Homo sapiens: one gene and its partners. The protein of the gene in region 2 purifies or fractionates together with the protein of the main gene of each other region. This does not show direct contact. Each region holds a gene or a part of one and is shown on either strand. Other genes may lie near its edges.

Region 1 (7,031 bases), on a different chromosome or scaffold from region 2:
AATTGATTGAAGTAATGTTCGTGCCTGTTAATTTTTCCCGACAGCAGCTCTTCCTCCTCTTCCTCGCGGGCCTTCTTCATTTCCTCCTTGGCCTGTATGGCATCCATCTCCCTTTCTGGACCCTGGAGAAAGAAAGAAAAAACATAAGCCCCACCGGGTGCGATGGCTCGTGCCTGTAATCCCAGCACTTTGGGAGGCCGAGGCAGATGGATCACGAAGTCAGGAGATCGAGACCATCCCGGCTAACACGGTGAAACACAGTCTCTACCAAAAATACAAAAAAAAAAAAGCCAGGCGTGGTGGTGGGCGCCTGTAGTCCCAGCTACTCGGGAGGCTGAGGCAGGAGAATGGCCTAAACCTGGGAGGCAGAGCTTGCAGTGAGCTGAGATCACTCTACTGCACTCCATCCTGGGCGACAGAGCAAGACTCTGTCTCAAAAAAAAAAAAAAAGCAAAAATTAGCTGGGCGTGGTGGTGTGTGGCTGTAGTCCCAGCTGCTCGGGAGGCTGAGGTGAGAGGATCATTTGAACCTAGGAGGCGGAGGTTGCAGTGAGTCGAGATGGCACCACTGCACTCCAGCCTGGGTGACAGAGCAAAACCCGTCTCAAAACAAAACAAAACAAAACAAAACAAAAAAAGCCCCAGAGGCCAGGGGTTATGCTTCCATGTGGCCAAATGCATGTCAGTACTCAGGCAGACCCTGCCTTCTAGAAGCCTCCTCACCACCTAGGATAGGCTGAATAAGAAGAACCTGTAAAGATTGCATGTCCTGGCTGGGCGCGGTGGCTCACACCTGTAATCCCAGCACTTTGGGAGGCCGAGGCAGGCAGATCATGAGGTCAAGAGAGCGAGACCATCCTGGCCAATATGGTGAAACCCCGTCTCTACTAAAAATACAAAAATTAGTTGGGTGTGGTGGCAGGTGCCTGTAGTCCCAGCTACTCGGGAGGCTGAGGCAGGAGAATCGCTTGAACCGGGAGGTGGAGGTTGCAGTGCGCCGAGATCACGCCACTGTACTTCAGCCTGGCGACAGAGCGAGACTCCGTCTCAAAAAAAAAAAAAAAAAAAAAAAATTCATGTCCTAATCCCTGGAACCTGCCAATATTAACCTTACATGGGGCCAGGCACAGTGGCTCACTCCTGTAATCCCAGCACTTTGGGAGGCCAAGGCAGGTGGATCACCTGAGGTCAGGACTTCGAGACCAGCCTGAACAATATGGTGAAACCCCCTCTCTACTAAAAATACACAAATTAGCCGGACGTGGTGGCATGCGCCTGTAGTCCCAGCTACTTGGGAGTCTGAGGCAGGAGAATCGCTTGAACCCGGGAGGTGGAGGTTGCAGTGAGCCGAGACTATGCCACTACATTACAGCCTGGGTGACAGAGCTAGACTCCATCTAAAAAAAAAAAATTTACACAAATGAAATAGTGATGTAGGAAGAGTTAATCACGTGCTTCATACCTTGGTTTCGCCCCAGGTGGCCTTGCCAAAATTATCTGCGTACTCTTCATCATCTGTGATCAGAAAGTTATCAAAAATGGTTCCAGATCTCACCTGCAGATGAAAATAAGGCCTTCATTATTATGCTTTTATTCTTTATTATTTGTTTATTTTTCATTTCTTTTTTCCTTTGGAAATACATGAAGCTCAGGTGACATTTTTTATTTTTTAGAGATGGGGTCTTGCTATGTTGCCTAGGCTGGATTTGAACTTCTGGGCTTGGCCAGGCGTGGTGGTTCACACCTATAATCCCAGCACTTTGGGAGGCTGGGGCAGGTGAATCACTTGAGGTCAGGAGTTCAAGACTAGCCTGGCCAACACGGTGAACCCCATCTCTATTAAAAATACAAAAATTACCAGGTGTGGTCGTGCATGCCTGTAGTCCCAGCTACTTGGGAGGCTGAGGTGGGAGGATCGCTTGAACCCGGGAAGCAGAAGCTGCAGTGAGTTGAGATCGTGCCACTGCACTCCCGCCTGGGTGACAGAGTGAGACTCAGTCTCAAAGAAAAAAAAAAAAGAACTGGGCTCATGTGATGGTCCCACTTCAGCCTCCCCAGTAGCTGGGACTATTACAGGCGTGAGCCATACTGTCCCTGGCTACTAGGCCTTCATTATTGATGTGACATATGTAACAACTTTTCAAAAAGAAACAGTTGTATTTTGCTCAGTAGTGTATACTATAACAGCAATTAGAATAGTAGGTGGTGCTTAAACCCATTTCTAGAATATCCTTTCCCTCTAAGGCACTGGTTCCTTAAACGTGGCTGCACATCGGGATCACCAAAACTTTTTTTTTTTTTGAGACTTAGTCTCGCTCTGTTTTTTTTTTTTTTTTTTTTGAGATGAAGTGAAGTCTCACTCTGTTGCGGAGGCTGGAGTGCCGTGGCGCGATCTTGGCTCACTGCAACCTCCACTTCCTGGGTTCAAGTGATTCCTCCCAGGATTAAGTTATTCTCATGCCTCACCCTCCTGAGTAGCTGGGACTACAAGCACGCACCACCACACCCAGCTAATTTTTGTATTTTTAGTAGAGACGAAGTTTCACTATGTTGCCCAGGCTGCTCTCAAACGCCTGAGCTCAGGCAATCTGCCCCCCTCAGCCTCCCAAAGTGCTGGGATTACAGGCATGAGCCACTGAGCCCAGCTGGGATCACCAAAGCATTAAAACAAAAAAACAAACAAAACTCTCAGCACTTTGGAAGGCTGAGGTGGAAGGACTGCTTGAGCCTAGAAGTTCTGAGACTCCCATCTCTTTTTTTTTTTTTTTTTTTTGAGACGGAGTCTTGCTCTGTCACCCAGACTGGAGTGCAGTGGCCCGATCTCAGCTCACTGCAAGCTCTGCCTCCCGGGTTCACGCCATTCTCCTGCCTCAGCGTCCCGAGTAGCTGGGACTACAGGCGCCCGCCACCACGCCCGGCTAATTTTTTTTGTATTTTTAGTAGAGACGGGGTTTCACCATGTTAGCCAGGATGGTCTCGATCTCCTGACCTTGTGATCCACCCGCCTCAGCCTCCCAAAGTGCTGGGATTACAGGAGTGAGCCACCGCGCACAGCCTAGACTCCCATTTCTTAAAAAAAAAAAATCTGGATGTGGTGGCTTGTGCCTGTAGTCCTAGCTACTTGGGAGGCTGAGGTGGGAGGATCGCTTGGGCCTAGTTTGAGGCTACAGTGAGCTAGGATGGTGCCACTGCACTCCAGCCTAGGTGACAGAATGAGACCCTGTCTCAACAAAACAAAACAAAACAAAACAAAACACACACACGCAAAAAATCTAAAGTAAAGTTAAAACCAAATGACCTGCCAAAGCTCCAGGCCAATGGCACCAATGTTCTCAAATTCTGAGAGGTCATACTGCGTCAAATAGTCGGTATTCTTCATCTTACGGTGGAGCCAGACGTCTTTATGAATACCTTCTGGTTTCAGGCCATCCTGTATCAAAAAAACCATATGGGGTGGTCTCAATGACATGGGCAGCGGAGGGGCAGCCCTGGGGCATCCCTGGCATCATACAAAGAGGCCACACACCTGGTACGGGGGCTTCTGGAGCATCGGCGCTGGCCAGTCCCCATCCAGGTCACCGTTCCAGTCGCTCTGCTTGCTGGTGCTGGCGTCCAGAAAATGCTTCTCCCAGTCCTTCAAAGACATGTAAGGAAAAAGTAAAATCAGTCAGATGCTCATATATTTGTTGTTGTTGCTTCTGTTTTTGTTTCTTGAGACTAGGTTTTGCTCTCACCCAGGCTGGAGTGCGGTTGTGCAATCATGGCTCACTGCAGCCTCAACCTCTTGGGCTCCAGTGATCCTCCTGCCTCAGCCTCCCAAGTAGCTCGGACTACAGGCGCCCGCCATCATACCTGGCTACTATTTTTATGTTTTGTACAGTCAGGGTCTCCCTCTGTTGCCCAGGCTGGTCTCGAACTCCTGGGTTCAAGCGATCCTCCTGCCTTGACCTCTGGAAGTGCTGGTATTACAGGCATTAGCCACCACACCCAGCCAGATGCTCAGATTTGAGAAAGGAAATTATTAGATGCCAAGTGGCAGGCACAGGCTGGTGACCCCTGTCCCAGTGTCCCTCTCCCTTCTTCAGTTTGGTGGTCAGGAGGCCAAGTGCTTGGTGCTTCCAATCCCACTGAGGACTTCAGGGCAACACCACACTGCCTAGATTTTTCTCCCTAACCTGCCATATGACTTTAGCCCTTTCCTGCATGCTATGGAGAGGAGCAGCGGTGTGGAAACCTCAAGTAGTGGCTAGAGTGAAAAATGATGGTGCAAAAAGTGATGGTGATGGCCAGATGTGGTGGCTCACACCTGTAATCCCAGCACTTTGGGAGGCCAAGGCAGGCAAATCACTTGAGGTCGGGAGTTCGAGACTAGCCTGGCCAACATGGTGAAACCCCATCTCTACTAAAAATACAAAAATTAGCCAGGGATGGTGGCGGGTGCCTGTAATCCCAGGTATTCGGGAGGCTGAGGCAGGAGAATCACTTGAACCTGGGAGGCGGAGGTTGCCGTGAGCTGAGATCACGCCACTGCACTCCAGCCTGGGCAAGAAGAACGAAACTCTGTCTCAAAAAATAAATAAATAAGTAAATAAATAAATGTTTTACGATACCTTCAGATGTGTAGAGATGTGGCTGGTCTGCAGTGTGTGCTCTGGGGAGGGCATTTGGTTCTATAATATTGCCATCGTGGCTACCAGCCATGCAGCAATTGTCCAGTAACTGGGTACTTACAAACTACATTTGTGCACTTTTTAGAGTTGCCCAGGAAAAATTCACACCTGGGCTTTGTTGTCTTTAGTCTGTTCCCAATCCTTCGATTCTGCCGGGGACGTTTCCTTCTTGAGTGATGTTAAGTTCCAGTCGTACTCTATGCTGCCGGATTCAATTGACTGACCATCAATTTTCACATCATAAGAAAGATCTGGTCTTAAAATTAGAGTGTACAGGTGTGTGAAGCCATCAACCTGCATATTTTAGGGGGAAAAGCGTAACAATTAAATCCTCAATTTCTTTTTTCTTTTCTTTTCTTTTTTTTTTTTTTTTTGAGATGGAGTCTCACTCTGTCGCCCAGGTTGGAGCGCTGTGGCACAATCTCGGCTCACTACAACCTCCACCTCCTGAGTTCAAGCGATTCTACTGCCTCAGCCTCCTGAGAAGCTGGGATTACAGGCACCTGCCACCATGCCTGGGTAATTTTTTGTGTCTAGTAGAGACAGAGTTTCACCATGTTGACCAGGCTGGTCTCGAACTCCTGACCTCAGGTGATCCACCTGCCTCAGCCTCCCAAAGTGCTGGGATTACAGGCATGAGCCACCACGCCCGGCCAACTCTCGATGTTTTAATGCAAGTCTAAATATGCAGTTTATTTTTATTTTTATTTTTTTGAGACAGGGTCTTGCTCTGTCACCCAGGCTGGAGTGCAGTGGTGCAATCAGAGCTCACTACAACCTTGACCTCCCAGGCTCAAGTGACCCTCCCACCTCAGCCTCCCCAGTAGCTGGGACCACAGGTTCCTGGCACTACACCTGGCTAATTTTTGTATTTTTTGTCATGACAAGATTTCGCCATGTTGCCCAGGCTGGTCTTGAACTCCTTGGCTCAAGCAGTCCTCCTGCCTCAGCTTCCCAAACTGCTGGGATTACAGGTGTGAGCCACTGCACCCAGACATTTCTCCAGAATGTTTTTTTCATCCTGAATATTTCATTCATTAATGAGGATGGATGTGGCTGAAATGTGACTGTACTATTGTAACCCTCATAGGGCAAATGATGACATGTCATAGCTCACAGTAAAAAATGAGAGTGCCCTCCTGATGGGGTAAAAACTTCAGGAAACCAGTTAAAGGAGAGAAGTATCTCCAATGGGCCCCCTAAACTGGAAACTGGAAACAGGAGGTATGTCTACAAAGACCCATCCCTGGCTCAGTTAAGTATTTTATTATCAAAACTATTTTTTCTAAACTTAGTCTGGCAGGAGTTAACACTCATTTATTTGAATACAAGAGCAGTTACCTTACACCTGATCAGTTTCTTGTTTTCGTGATACTTATTCTTGAAATGTAAAATAACATGAACTTTCTTGATATCAAATCCACAAATATCGGGTCCTACAAAAAAGATTAGCTGCTCTCAATTTCTTTCCATAATGCATCACCGTAGAATAACCAACCCACAACCATTCTTTTTTTTTTTTTGAGACGGAGTCTTGCTGTCACCCAGGCTGGAGTGCAGTGATCTTGGCTCACGGAAACTTCTGCCTCTTGGGTTCAAGCAATTCTCCTGCCTCAGCCTCCTGAGTAGCTGGGACTACAGGCGCATGCCACGATGCCCAGCTAATTTTTGTATTTTTAGTAGAGATGGGGTTTCACCATGCTGGCCAGGCTGGTCTCAAACTCCTGACCTTGTGATCCACCTGCCTCGGCCTCCCAAAGTCCTAGGATTACAGGCTTGAAACACCACGTGCAGTCCATTCTTCTTACATATAATCAGATATTCACACTAAGATATTTATTTATTTATTTGAGACAGAGTCTCACTCTGTCGCCCAGGCTGGAGTGCAGTGGTGGGATCTTGGCTCACTGCAGTCTCCGCCTCCCGGGTTTAAGTGATTCTCCTGCATCAACCTCCCGAGTAGAATAGCTGTGATTACAGGCATGTACCACCAGGCCCAGCTAATTTTTGTGTTTTTAGTAGAGACAGGTTTTGCCATGTTGGCTAGGCTGGTCTCAAACTCCTGACCTCAAGTGATTTGCCTGCCTTGGCCTCCCAAAGTGCTGAGATTATAGGTGTGAGCCACTGCATCTGGTCACATGTGTGAATATCTTATTATTGTTGTTAAAGGACAATGTCCTGGCTTTCCACTCACTTTTGAGTGTGTTCTGAAGCTTATTTAAATATTCAAAGTGGCCTGCTAATCCCAGCACTTTAGGAGGCCAAGGTGGGGAGATGACTTGAGGCCAGTTTGAGACCAGCCTGGCCAACATGGTAAAACCCCGTGTGTACTAAAAATACAAAAATTAGCTGGGAGTGGTGG
Region 2 (5,823 bases):
TCAAAACATATCCAAAAACTTACTTTTTAAGCCACTGAACATTACTGCCACAATTTGGTAGACTCAAAAGAATGCACCCTATTGTCAGAGTGAAGTTAGAAAGAAGAGCAAAGGGCTTTTGAGAATGTTTGCAGCTGGAGCTGCTCAAAACTGCTATCTCCTAACCAGGCCACTTCCTTGAAAGAGATGGTACTCGTTTCCGGATATGTACATAAAGGTGCAAGTTCATTACATCACAGGTTACCTTAATTTATGCTTACTGAATTTGCATCCTGCTACCCTAATTAATCCTCAACATGGAGTAGTAAGTGGAAGAGCGACTCAAGAAATGTACTGCAATGCTTCTCTGATATATCCGGTAATGTTAACCTGTGCTTTGGCCACCCATGTCGCTTAGTGTTAAGACAGGAGTTGTAACAGCATTTCATCCTGGGCAATTCCTTTAAATAACCAGGGAGAAAATAAAGGCAAGCTTCAGAAGAGAACTGCATGAAAAGCAAAACAAAACAATACCAGAAAAATCCAGACAATATTTTTCTGCTGTTTAATTGATCTCAAGGAAGGAGAAATTCAAGTCCACAAAAACTTACATCAATTCTGTTTATCACATACAAAACTAAACATACAATATAACAGCAAATAACAAACATGCTGAATATTTTCAAGCCATTTTGAATGGTGTCCTGTACATGTACATAAATAATACATACTGCTTCTGAATTACCTTAAAATACAGTACCACCAAGAGTTATATTTCTATGTAACTACTCCATAAGTGAGCATAAAGGAATGAGGAAGTAGACGATATCCATATCAGATAAAGTAGAAAGTCTTATGTCCTTCTGAAAAGCAACACAGTAGGCCCAAGAACAACTACAAACCATTTTCCTTTTAGCTAGGAGGTATATGGCAAGACCAATGATATTCTCTTCCCCATCCTTTTTGTCACAGGGTATGAAGTCTATCCTATTCAAGTTAGTTACAAGTCTTCAGCCCATTTAGTCATCTAAGAAGTTGAGAAAGTCTAAACCTAAGTAATCACAGCAAATACTGCAAATACTGATATACTTTTAGTTCATTTTTGTACTTTTTTACATTTTTTCCATTAGATAATTCTAAGCCTAAAATATTTTTCTTTTTCTTTTTCTTTTTCTTTTTTTTTTTAAAGAAACTTGGATTGTTTTAATTGGTTTAAATGCAGGGTATATGTAAACAACTCCCCAGAAATGAGAGGCACTTCTCGGAAATACAATAACCCATGTCACTAGACTAGCAAAACACTCAGTGCTTTTGACTTGATGAATTGAATGAGTTCATGATTCAACTTTCTAATGTTGTCTACTTGAAAAATAGCAAGATTCTTATCTGCAGCATTTAATGCATTAAGATGTATTAGATAGGCATATCAGATATCATAAAATTAAAATTGTGCTTATGTTAATTCTGTAATAGACCTAACTTTAAAACACCTCATGTTATTCACTAGGAGCTATGATCTAGTCGTGACAATATTGGTTAAAATAGTCAATCTGAGGCAGAAAGTAAACAAGCAAAGTCACTTTTGCAGGCTTTTTAAACTGTATAACACATGAAATTATGACTATTCCCCAGATTATGCAACCAGCTTCAATTTAAAAAGCTGGGAACAAATATTATGAGGCGTTACTTCTCAATTTCTTTCTTTTTCTTTTTTTTTTGAAACGGAGTTTCCCTCTTGTTGCCCAGGCTGGAGTGCAATGGCACGATCTTGGCTCACCACAACCTCCGCCTCCCGGGTTCAAGAGATTCTCGTCTCAAACTTCCGAGTAGCTGGGATTACAGGCATGCACCACCACACCCGGCTAATTTTGTATTTTTAGTGGAGACAGGGTTTCTCCATGTTGGTCAGGCTGGTCTTGAACTCCCGACCTCAGGTGATCCGCCTGCCTCGGCCTCCCAAAGTGCTGGGATTACAGGCGTGAGCCACCACGCCCAGCCACCTCTAAATTTCTTAATCACGATTGTTTTCAGCTCAGACATACACAAGGCAAGTAGAATTACTAATAAATCACTTTACCCTCAACCATTCAAGGTCTCTAAGAGCATGCACATGGATACATGACGGGGAAAGGCAGCAACTCAGCATAAACACTTTAGTATTAACATAAGGAGTATATATACATATACACATATGTATAGAATATCTTGCTTTTGAATATCTATGGGCCATGAAACTTCATAGAGAGCTGCATAAAAATCTAGCAGAGAAAGGATCATAAGTGAAGTGCCAGCCATGGATAACAGACTAATCTGTGCTCACAAAAAAGGGCAGGCAAGGAACACACAGACATCACTCAGGAACTACAGGAAAACTAAGCGTAGTGCTGTTTTCCAAATATAAAACATATACTAAGTACAAAAGTTATAGTAAATTTGAGGACTACGGAAGTAATACTTACTATATGTACATCTTTTGTTCACATAAAAAGCTTAAAGTAAGATCTTAGCATAAAAGTATGCTTTCTCCAGTAGGATGGTGTGAGAGGGAAAGAATGTAAGAAGGAACTTGTACAAGTCTGAAAATTAAGTCTTGAAAGTAAAAGGCTACCATAAAAAATATTATGTCATTTGGTATGATCAAAATCAGATTTTAAAAGACCTTAAAATATAACCCTTGCACATTGTTTTTTATAATTATATACGTATAATTAGAGCTACATAATCTTGTCTTTATGCTGTTTTTGATATTTTTTCAGACATTTACTGCTGTCTGAAAAGTTTACAAGCTATTATATGTTCCCAAATGAAAAATGCCAAGTTTTTCATTTGCCCCCAAGGTGAAAAAATTGAAACCTCTACGTCAAAAACAAATACAGTAATTGTTTAAAGGGATAAAATCAACTATAATGACATGGGCCGTATTAAAATACACTGCGCAAATATGAACAGAAAACTCACAGCACAACTATAGGAACAAGAAGATGTTATTTAACTGCAGTGAAATAAGAAGGCTTGGAGAGAGTTGGGAAGCCTGAAGACCAGATAAGCGAGTTTAGAATTCATTCAGCAACCTTACTCATATTCCACTCTCCCGCCCCTCACCCCAAGCAAAATAATAAAATCCTGCTCTTGCAAACTGAAACAGATCATTATTTTTGACTAAGGACCACAGGGTGTGGAACCCAAATCAGTAACTTTGTAACTATTACACTGAATGTAGGTCCATGTGTTTTGATCCTTTTACAGGCCCTTCCTTTACAAATTGTAAAGAGTGATTTCCCTGGGGTGCCTCTCTGGAGAAGCTTTACATGCCAGCAATTCCAGAATGTCAAATATTTCATTCTCAGCCCCACCAAACAGCAGTAATCATGCTAAGCCCATTGACTTTGGAAAATTCTGCAAGTTATTTTAACCTCAGTTCGGAGAACTCAAAAGTAGGTTTTACCACCACCTCTAAGTTTAAAATGCCCCTCAAAAAAGAAAAAAAAAACCATGTCAGAGAAAATGTATTAAAGTACTAGATTCCACTGTCTCTCTAGAAAGCAACCAGCTTAGTGAGAAATGACTACTCAAAATACAAACTCACTACTCCCTGACTTGAGGAAGAACTAAAGCTTCTCCTAAGGGTAAAATGAACAGAAATTTTGCTTGAGGAGTTTATAAAAAAGTAAGCGAGGGAGTGGGCAAGAAGGACCTTATTTTAAACATTTAGGATTCCACACCATTTGAAACAGTCTGCACTATTTCATATACTTACGTGCATGTGAAAATGGGGAGGTAACACCACTAGCTGCTCTACACAGACCGGCTACTGTAGCTGAGGTTTCACTGACACTTTCCCTGGAGAGGTGCCATTTTATTCCTTTATATGGCACATATTTTACATAATTTTTATCTAAAGGGCTCTCATTTGCCTAAGACTGACAATACAAAGAAAGGCTTATTGAAAGACACTTCCCTTTGAAAATAACCCCACTCAGGGTAGAAATAAAGGTGGACAAAAATGCCAGTCAACTACTTAAATGTCAGTATTTGTAAAATTCCTTAAAATTCACAGTATTTTGACTTTTGGAAGCGCTCTAACATTGAGGTACCTGCAGGTCTTGGCAATTCAGCATTTTAGATATTTATTTTAGTTTATATGTGTTTTGCTTTACTCCGTTTGTTTTCAGTTTTTTCTCACTCGATACAGTGGCATGACCACAGCTCTCTGCCTTTCCCTTTTTCCTAGGATGTGCATGTGCTTGTGTTTTGGAGGCCTTACAGGAATCTGCTGAGTCCAGAATCACAGCTGCCTGTTTGGGAACTCGAATGTGACCGCTGGTTTCCACCTTAGAGCTGCTTCCACTGCCGGACAGATCCCAGCGCTGCAGCTTCGTACTCTTACTTGATTTCTTTTTCTTTTCTTCTGTCCTCATTTCAAGGGTTTGCCTCTGAGAACAAAACCTGGTACCACCAAGCACATCAATGGGTCTAGGGGAAGTCTCAAATGCATAATGTGATGGGTGGATTTCTTCATGGTGAAAAGCTTTCTTTCGGGAAGGGCCTGACTTTGAAGCCCCTTCCTGGTGAGGTAGTGGCTTGGACAGAGCACTAGCAATTAGCTTACTTCTCCCAGGGCTTTTCAGTGCCCCTGAGGTCCCAGGGGCAGTGGGGGGCCTTGCTTTGCCCCCCTTTGCTTTTTCACACTGTACAGTCTGGACTTGCAGCCACTCAAGCTGAATAAGTCTATCGATATACTTCCCAAGAAGTCCTCCCACTCGGGGCACGGCTTCCGTTTTGTTCTCTGCGTTCAGAAGCAGGGCCATATCTCGTAGGTCCCAGGAGCTGAAAGGGGATGGAAGGAAATTAGGATAATAGTATTCAGGTTTTGTATGGCCCTGACCAGGGTGAAGATCAAAGTAAACTGGATCAATTTCTTCAGCTCGAAGATTGAGATCTGGAGGTGTGAGGGGAGAAGGAGGAATGGGAATTCTTTCCGAATCAGAGAGATCACTTGCACTGTCCTCATCAGCATTCTCTTTAATAATTTTCATTGACTGAAAATCAAGAAACAGTTTATTCCCTGAGGCCCCCTGACACCTGGAACCGAGTGGATTCCTTTTGCGTCTTGCTTCCGGGGAAATGCTTTCTTTAAGTTTTTCTTCAGTAGGCTGGGTGACAGCTGTGAGGCTGCTTCTCGGCTGGGAAGAAGCGTGGGGTACTTGGGATTTACTCTGCCTTTTTCCTGAAGAATTCTTTGAATGTTGCACTTTATTCCAAGATGGGCCAGCATTCATATTGCTGTGAGAAAATAAAACTGCAATTCTTACCACATATGACAAAAAATGGTCTGGCTATAATTAAACAAACAAAAAGAATCTTCTAGTTGTACTTTTTTTTGTCTCAGCTATTAGTAGGCATTAGAAAATGTCAGCTTCCAAACTCCTTAAAGCATAAGTAATTTTACAGAACATTTTCCCATATAATACTCTATTTGAGATACATTATATAATGCATGTGACAAAAGAGAATGCACAGTTTCCATTTTATATCAAATATTAGCATTTAGGAAAAACATTAACATTTCTCAAAGTGCTTGTTTCATACTTTCGTGTGTACTTTAAAAAAAAAACATTAGTTTGGAAAAAATCAGTCGTAGAACTCTGGAATTGTTACCATCAAAAGCATTTAATAACATTCAGAAGTAAAAACAGTTTTATTTTATACACCTATTTTAAATTAAGTGTAAATATCAAATAAACATGCAAGTTTTGCAGTTTAATCACTGATTGGTGGCGATTCTGAGCTGAGTGAAATTTTAATATATAAAAGTATTGCACATACAAACCTGTACCTTAAATC
Region 3 (7,031 bases), on a different chromosome or scaffold from region 2:
GCAGCAGTGAAGCCCAGGATGGCACCAGAGGGCCAAGAGGTGGGACAGATCCATTGGATCTTAGAAGCATAAGAGGCCTCTCTCGGGCCACCAACCAGTGAGATATCTTTCCTCGGACATCTGTCAGATGACATCATCACAGTCAGTTTTTGCTTTGATTATTGTATCATAGAGAGTTTTTGACAAATTGAGTTCTGCATTAATTTTATCTTTGTAGTCTAGTGTAAGATTCATTGTGTATTTTGCATTTTAAAATCATTTCTTCTCTATCAGGGATCAGTATAAGAAATGGCATACTCTCGAATCCAGGCAAGGAATTTATTCCACCTAATCCATGGTCTAGTTCTGGCTTGTCTGGAAAATCTTCAGGGACAATGTCAGTAATCAGCAAAGTAAATTCAGGTGAGTAATGATCATTAACCCCTAAATGGCAAAAAGCAAATTCCCTGGATGCAGGAAGGTGGGCACAAGGAGTCATGGGACGGGCTTTGGAAGCACAGGGGCCTTTGTCATCTGAAAGCTCAGGCCTCTTTTCCAGCCCTATCCTCCTCTCTTTCTCGGCAGCAGTCCCTTGGGACTCAGCCAGCTCCCAGGGGAGTCTGCCTTCCAGGGTAGCTGGGGAGTAGAGCATAGTCATCCCTGGCTCAAGGGAAAAACAAAAATACCTTTACAGACTCTTACTAGGCCTGATGGCTAAAGCCCTGGCTGCAGCAGGCACCCTCCTCTTGAGGTGGAAGTCACCCTTGGCTGTGTCTGCCTTGTTCCAGCCTGTCCCCTCCTTCTGATGACCCAGCTGCAGGCCCAGAGTATCAAGATCCCTTCTAGTTGGAAGGTGGACAGTTTGGAAGACCCTCCCCACTTTTTTTGTTAAACGGATGAATGAATTTACTGAGTCCCAAGGCTGACAAACCCTGTTCACAGTAGAGACGTTTCCTGCATCATTTTTCCCTGATGCAGGCAGCCCCTGCCATGTGCTGCTTTCCCCTCTGCACTGCCAAGTGCACTGCCTTCATCCATTAGGTGTTTGTTTAATTTAAGGAAAATAAAAAAGAAAGAGATAATATAGCAACACCTGTGTAGCCATCACCCAGCTTAAGAAGTCAAACTTTGGCCAGGTGTGGTGGCTCATGCCTGTAATCCCAGCACTTTGGGAGGCTGAGGCTGAGGCAGGTGAATCACTTGAGGTCAGGAGTTTGAGACCAGCCTGGCCAACATGGTAAAACCCTGTCTCTACCTAAAATATAAAAATTAGCCAGGCATGGTGGCAGCAGGCCTGTAATCCCAGCTACTCAGGAGGCTGAGGCAGGATATCACTTGAACCTGGGAGGCGGAGGTTGCAGTGAGCCAAGATTGCGCCACTGCACTCCAACCTGGGTGATAGAGTGAGATTCTGTCTCAAAAAAAAAAAAAAAAGTTGAACTTGGCAAATACACATGAAGCCCAGTGTCTGTGCCTTTCCCGCCTCCCTGCTTCCCCTTACCTCCCCCCATGCCAGCCTGATCGAGTGTTTATTTAGGTTTGTATAAACTTCATAGTGTGGTTTTGCAGGTTTTAAAATTTATGTGAAGATAATCTTGGATCACTGCTTCATGCATTTTAATAAATATATGTGTAGCAATTATAGAGATATATATCATATATTATATAACATATACAATATATATCTATACAACACCATAACTTATTATTTATGTGGACCATAATTTATGTATGCCTTCTCTTCTTGATAAATACATAAGTTGATTGCAATTTTTGCTATTAGAAAGAGTGCTGAGATGATTATTGTACCCCTATTGTTATGCACATGTGTGAGGATTCCTCTGGGTACGAGAACTAGGAGTCAACATTTTATTTTATTTTATTTTATTTTATTTATTTATTTTTATTTATTTATTTATTTTAAGACGCAGTCTTGCTCTGTTGCCCAGGCTGGAGTGCAGTGGCATGATCTCGGCTCACTGCAACCTCTGCCTCCCTGGTTCAAGCAATTCTCCTGCCTCAGCCTCCCAAGTAGCTAGGATTACAGGCATGTGCCACCACACCCAGCTAATTTTTTTTTTTTTTTGTATTTTTAGTAGAAACAGGGTTTCACCATGTTGGCCAGGCTGGTCTCGAACTCCTGACCTCAGGTGATCCACCCGCCTGGGTCTCCCATTGTGCTGGGATTACAAGTGTGAGCCACCATGCCCAGCCAGAGTCAACATTTTAGGTTAAAGGGTGTGCTCATCTTCAACTTCACAGATATTGCCAAACTACTTGCTCTCCAGCGGGATATGGGAGTTGCTCTGCATCCTTGATGCCACTTGGTACTGTCAAGACTAAAATTTGTGCTAATCTGATGAGTGAGAAATGGTATCCTATTGTGGTTTAAACTTGCATGTCCTATTTACTAATGAGGTTCATCATCTTTTCTTGTGTTTATTGACTATAAGTTTTTTCTCTTTTGTGACTTACCTGTTCAAATTCTCTTCCCATTTTTCTTCATGTTTCTTCATTCACCAAAGTACAAAATACACCCCAGCTGACCAACGCAACTCCTCACGCAGGCATTCTAGACTGTGTTTCCACTCTGCCTTAAACAATTGCTGAAAAAGCTCTGTGTTGTGAAAACAGAGCAACTCTACTACTTACTGACTTTTCTTAATGGTTAGAATTTCCATTTCTATAACGGGCAATAATAACAGTCTTCATTATTCCATGTGTACCTTTAAGCCTAAATAATAAGAATTATATTCATTCACCCATCCAAAATTAATTGATTATCTGCTATATGCAAGGCATTCTGTTATCCTCCCCAGAATACCAAGACGAGTAGCATACAGTCCCTGCCCTTAAAGCACTCCCAAGTGGAAATGACATAAAAAGTTAAGGTATTTCACATTGTAAAAAATGGTTAATTTTTCTGATGTGGATAAGAATATTTAGTGTGTAATTACTTGTCACAGCTAAATAATTTAATATAACCTGTGTGTTGATCAATAAGAAAATGGTTAAATGGATTATGGTTTAGCCATACTCTAGAATTTATATGTACTCACATGGAAGGATAACTATTCTATATTATGGAGTGAAAAAAGCAAATTTTAGAATAGTCTAAATCTACTTTTACAAAAGAAAATAAAGAACAAATGTCATATTTCCCTTTTTTAAAAAAATTTCACAACCAACCCACCCTCTATTTGGTTGCCCCTCACAGGAGCAGCACTGTCTTTGGCCCCCGCAGTCTTTCTGACAGGGTAGTATGGTGGGATGCTTGGCTCTGAACTCATTTTTATCATGATTTGCTCTTTTCCCTAAAAGTAAAAACTTAGTTTGTTATTGCTCTGCAGTGCTGTCATTTAACCTTGTTGGTGTCCTGGGTACATGTCTTTGTAATAATGAGCTTTTTGCTTTTGCAAATCAGTTGGTTCCAGCTCTACAAGTTCTAGTGGACTGACTGGAAACTATGTCCCTTCCTTTCTGAAAAAAGAAATCGGTTCTGCTATGCAGAGGGTACACCTAGCACCTATTCCAGACCCTTCCCCTGGTGAGTTGTATTTTAAATTATTCATGAATTTACTCAACAAATGGTTACTCAACAACTGCTTTGTGCCAGGCATGTTTTAGGCCTGGGATCCACCAATAAATGAAACTTGCACTCTACAGACAATAAGTAAGCTAAATAAGTGCTATATAACATATAGTAAGTCAGATGCTTACTGACTTAGTGCTAAGGAGAAAAATACAGCAGACAGGAGGTAGGGATTGTGGGGGTTGGAGTGTGGGGTACAGGTTACAATTTTAGATAGAGTAGCTAAAGAAGAGCTCACTGCAAAGGAGTTGTTGAGTAGAGACCTGGAGGAGGTGATTGAGCAAGCATACAGTATGAGTGAGGCTTTTCCAGACAGGAGATTGTTCTGTGCTTGAGCTTTCAGGCAGAACTGGCCTGGCAAATTCAAGGAGCAGCAAGGAGGCCAGAGTGTGGGAGTGACAGGAGTGAGAGGGGGAGTAGCAAGATGAGGTCAGGGGTGATACGATGCCTGTAAGCACATTGTCATGGATTCTGAGTGACGTGGAGTCCCTGGAGGGCTTTGAGTCCATAAGTGAGGTGATCTGACAGCCATCTCCACAGGCTCCCTCAAGCTGCTGTTGTCATGAGACTGAAGTAGGGGCAAGGTAGGAAGCAGGGAATCCAATTAGGAGGATGTTGAAATTATCCAGGTAAGAAATGATGCTAGCTTGGGCCAGCGTGGTAGTAGTTCAGTTGGTAAAAAGTTGCCAGGTTCTGTAAATATTTGGAAGGTAGAACTAATAGGATATCCTGACAAATTATATGTGGTATATGAAAAAAAGAGGGGTCAAGAATGATGCCATTATTTTTGGCCTGACAACTTTAAAACGATGTCTTTAACTGCAGTAGAGAAGATTATAAGTAGGAGACAAGATGCTCCTCTTGAACTCCTTATTTTCTCATGTTTTTGTCACCAAAATGCATTTATTTGTACTTTGCTTACATTGGCCCCATATCAGTCATGCCGGCCTTTTTCTTTCATTGCAGGTTATTCCTCCCTGAAGGCCATGAGACCTCATCCTGGGCGACCATTCTTCCACACCCAGCCTAGAAGCACTCCTGGGTTGATACCACGGCCTCCAGCCGCCCAGCCAGTGCATGGCCGGACAGACTGGGCTTCCAAGTACGCATCTCGGCGATGACTGTCTGCCTTGGTGATGAATCTCTTCCTAGGGAGAAGCAGGATACTTTCCCTCAGCTGACTGGTGTTCTACCTGCAAGATGTGCAGAGGGCATAAAAGCAAATCAACACTTTATAGTTATTCTTCTGAACTAAGACATGTCAATATTCTTTTTTAAAGTTTTTTTTTAAAATATTGATTTGAATGCAGTAGGCTTTTTTGTATAAAATTATTTTATTCTAAAACTGGGTCCCATTATTTTCTTAAACAACAGCATTTTGTATATATGGATTATGTTTTAGCATTTTATACAGTCAACTTTGTAATGAACTTTTTAAAAATTAATTGATTTTCCTTTGGGGTTCCAGATAATATTTTCTACAGATTTTGAAAAATGTAATAATATTAATGCAGTATTGCAACAGGGGTGCAATTTAAGGCTATGTGATAGAGGGTTATTTACTCAGTGTGTGCAGATATTTATGAAGTGGTGAAATTTCAAGTGTGGCTCACTAGGTACTTCAGGCCTTCTTGGACTGTTGTTAGAAAAGTGATCCTCTGCTTTTCTTAGTAGGTCATTGGTTTGATTTTTGGATACCACTCTGCTGTTCTAAAAGGACTATTATATTATATAATTCACTTTGTTTTACTTTTGTTCCCCAGATGAAAGAACTCTAAGTAAATACATTTTAAAAAATTTTTCTGACACCCTTTAATGTGGTTGCAGATCTCAGATGAAACCAAGCTTAATTATACTATGCCATTATATTCTAATTTATTCCATTTTTGAAATCAAGTTGTATGTGTACCAATAAAAGAGATTTCTGCTTCAAAAGGCTCTCAACATGAAGGTTAACACAGTCAATCAAACTTACATTCCTGCCAAGATGCATGGCCAAAAAACTAAGTATCAAAGCAGCAGAAGGTTTTTGATTATAGTAACTGAGATGGAATTTTGTGCCTAGCTCAGTTCTCCAGATCTGGCTAGGAGCAGTCAATGACTAATGTTCTGTCCTAGCCAAATTCTCAGGACAATTTGGGGAGCAGAAAGAGTTATGGCAGAGGTTCCACTCATCTACAAAGTCACAGTCACATGCCACATTTGATCTCCTAACCCTGGTGTAGTTTCTTTCAAGAGTGAGAACTTTATTTGTTGGGCAGAGGCTGTTCCATTGAGAGGAATGTTTACAGCAGTTTCAAAAATGACAAAGTCAGTTTGGAGACAGAAAAAGACAAAAGGTCCAGTCTCATCCATCTCTATATGGTACATTTGCCTCACTTATGGTTGCCTTAAAGGCAAGAGGGAAGGTCACCATCAGTGAACGCAATGCAATCTCAACAGTGTATTGATTCATATTCTCCTAGGGCTCAAACTACTCTCTATTGGTTCCAGGATAATGACAAATTGAACCATATGTAAGTAATCTTTTATTTTTTATTTTTTTTTTGAGACAGAGTCTCACTCTGTCACCCAGGCTGGAGTGCAGTGGCGCGATCTTAGCTCTCTGCAACCTCTGCCTCCCAGGTTCAAGCCTCCTGAGTAACTGGGACTACAGGCGCCCGCCACCACGCCCAGCTAATTTTTTGTATTTTTAGTAGAGACGGGGTTTCACTGTGTTAGCCAGGACGGCCTCGATCTCCTGACCTCGTGATCCACCCTCCTCCACCTCCCAAAGTACTGGGATTACAGGCATGAGCCACTGCACCCAGCCAAGTGATCATTTTTATAGGTTAAAATGATAGGTGAAATGAATATAGACACTTTCATATGGTTCAACCTAATGACTTGGTAAATTATTGCCTTGGTGTATTAATAATATGTTGCATTCTGAACAAATAACCATGGCTTCCAAAGGGCCCTAACCTAAAATCGGAGAGTAATTTATGCTTTGGAGAATTTGACTCAAATATATACTTGACCAAGCACCATGATCCCTAGGGGCATGAGAAAAGCACATAATGGATGTGGATGTGATAGGTGGTCTTTTCCTGTTAACAAGCTGGCAGCAAAGCTTCAGAAAATATATATGCAAGCACAACTTGAAGCTGAATTCATTTCTGTATTATATTCTCAACTCGTTATCTAAAGCATCAGAACATGTGTTTTCAGAGATGAGTCCTTTACTATAAGGTTAATATTTATTTTCATTTTCTGTATTATATATGAAAAGTAAATTAATGTGAAACCTGGCCCAGCTTGCTGGAAAGCAGGTTTTAAATTGTAAATATTCCTTAGAGGAGCAAATGGATTGTTTAATACCATAGTCTCAGTAATCTAGCTTATATAAGGTCATTACATTTTTTAACTGAAAAACCTAGTTACCTGATTATTGCACATTATAAAATTGTTTTTCTAATAC

The links.
Region 1: the proteins of FAM217B (region 2) and CALR3 purify together in Homo sapiens (affinity purification with mass spectrometry; 3 studies listed by BioGRID and IntAct, with this or other methods). This does not show direct contact.
Region 3: the proteins of FAM217B (region 2) and CILK1 purify together in Homo sapiens (affinity purification with mass spectrometry; 3 studies listed by BioGRID and IntAct, with this or other methods). This does not show direct contact.

The regions. Positions count from the first base shown.
Region 1 is NC_000019.10:16,479,153-16,486,183, forward strand, and holds part of CALR3 (calreticulin-3 precursor), read right to left. Parts: intron 6,106-7,031; coding exon 6,011-6,105; intron 4,964-6,010; coding exon 4,778-4,963; intron 3,634-4,777; coding exon 3,526-3,633; intron 3,430-3,525; coding exon 3,298-3,429; intron 1,555-3,297; coding exon 1,462-1,554; intron 123-1,461; coding exon 1-122. UniProt on the Homo sapiens protein: During spermatogenesis, may act as a lectin-independent chaperone for specific client proteins such as ADAM3. Required for sperm fertility. CALR3 capacity for calcium-binding may be absent or much lower than that of CALR.
Region 2 is NC_000020.11:59,943,379-59,949,201, reverse strand, and holds the end of FAM217B (protein FAM217B), read right to left. Parts: intron 5,263-5,823; 5' UTR 5,259-5,262; coding exon 4,107-5,258; 3' UTR 522-4,106; downstream 1-521.
Region 3 is NC_000006.12:53,002,810-53,009,840, reverse strand, and holds part of CILK1 (serine/threonine-protein kinase ICK), read left to right. Parts: intron 1-273; coding exon 274-402; intron 403-2,241; exon of another isoform or gene 2,242-2,352; intron 2,353-3,403; coding exon 3,404-3,526; intron 3,527-4,537; coding exon 4,538-4,692; 3' UTR 4,693-7,031.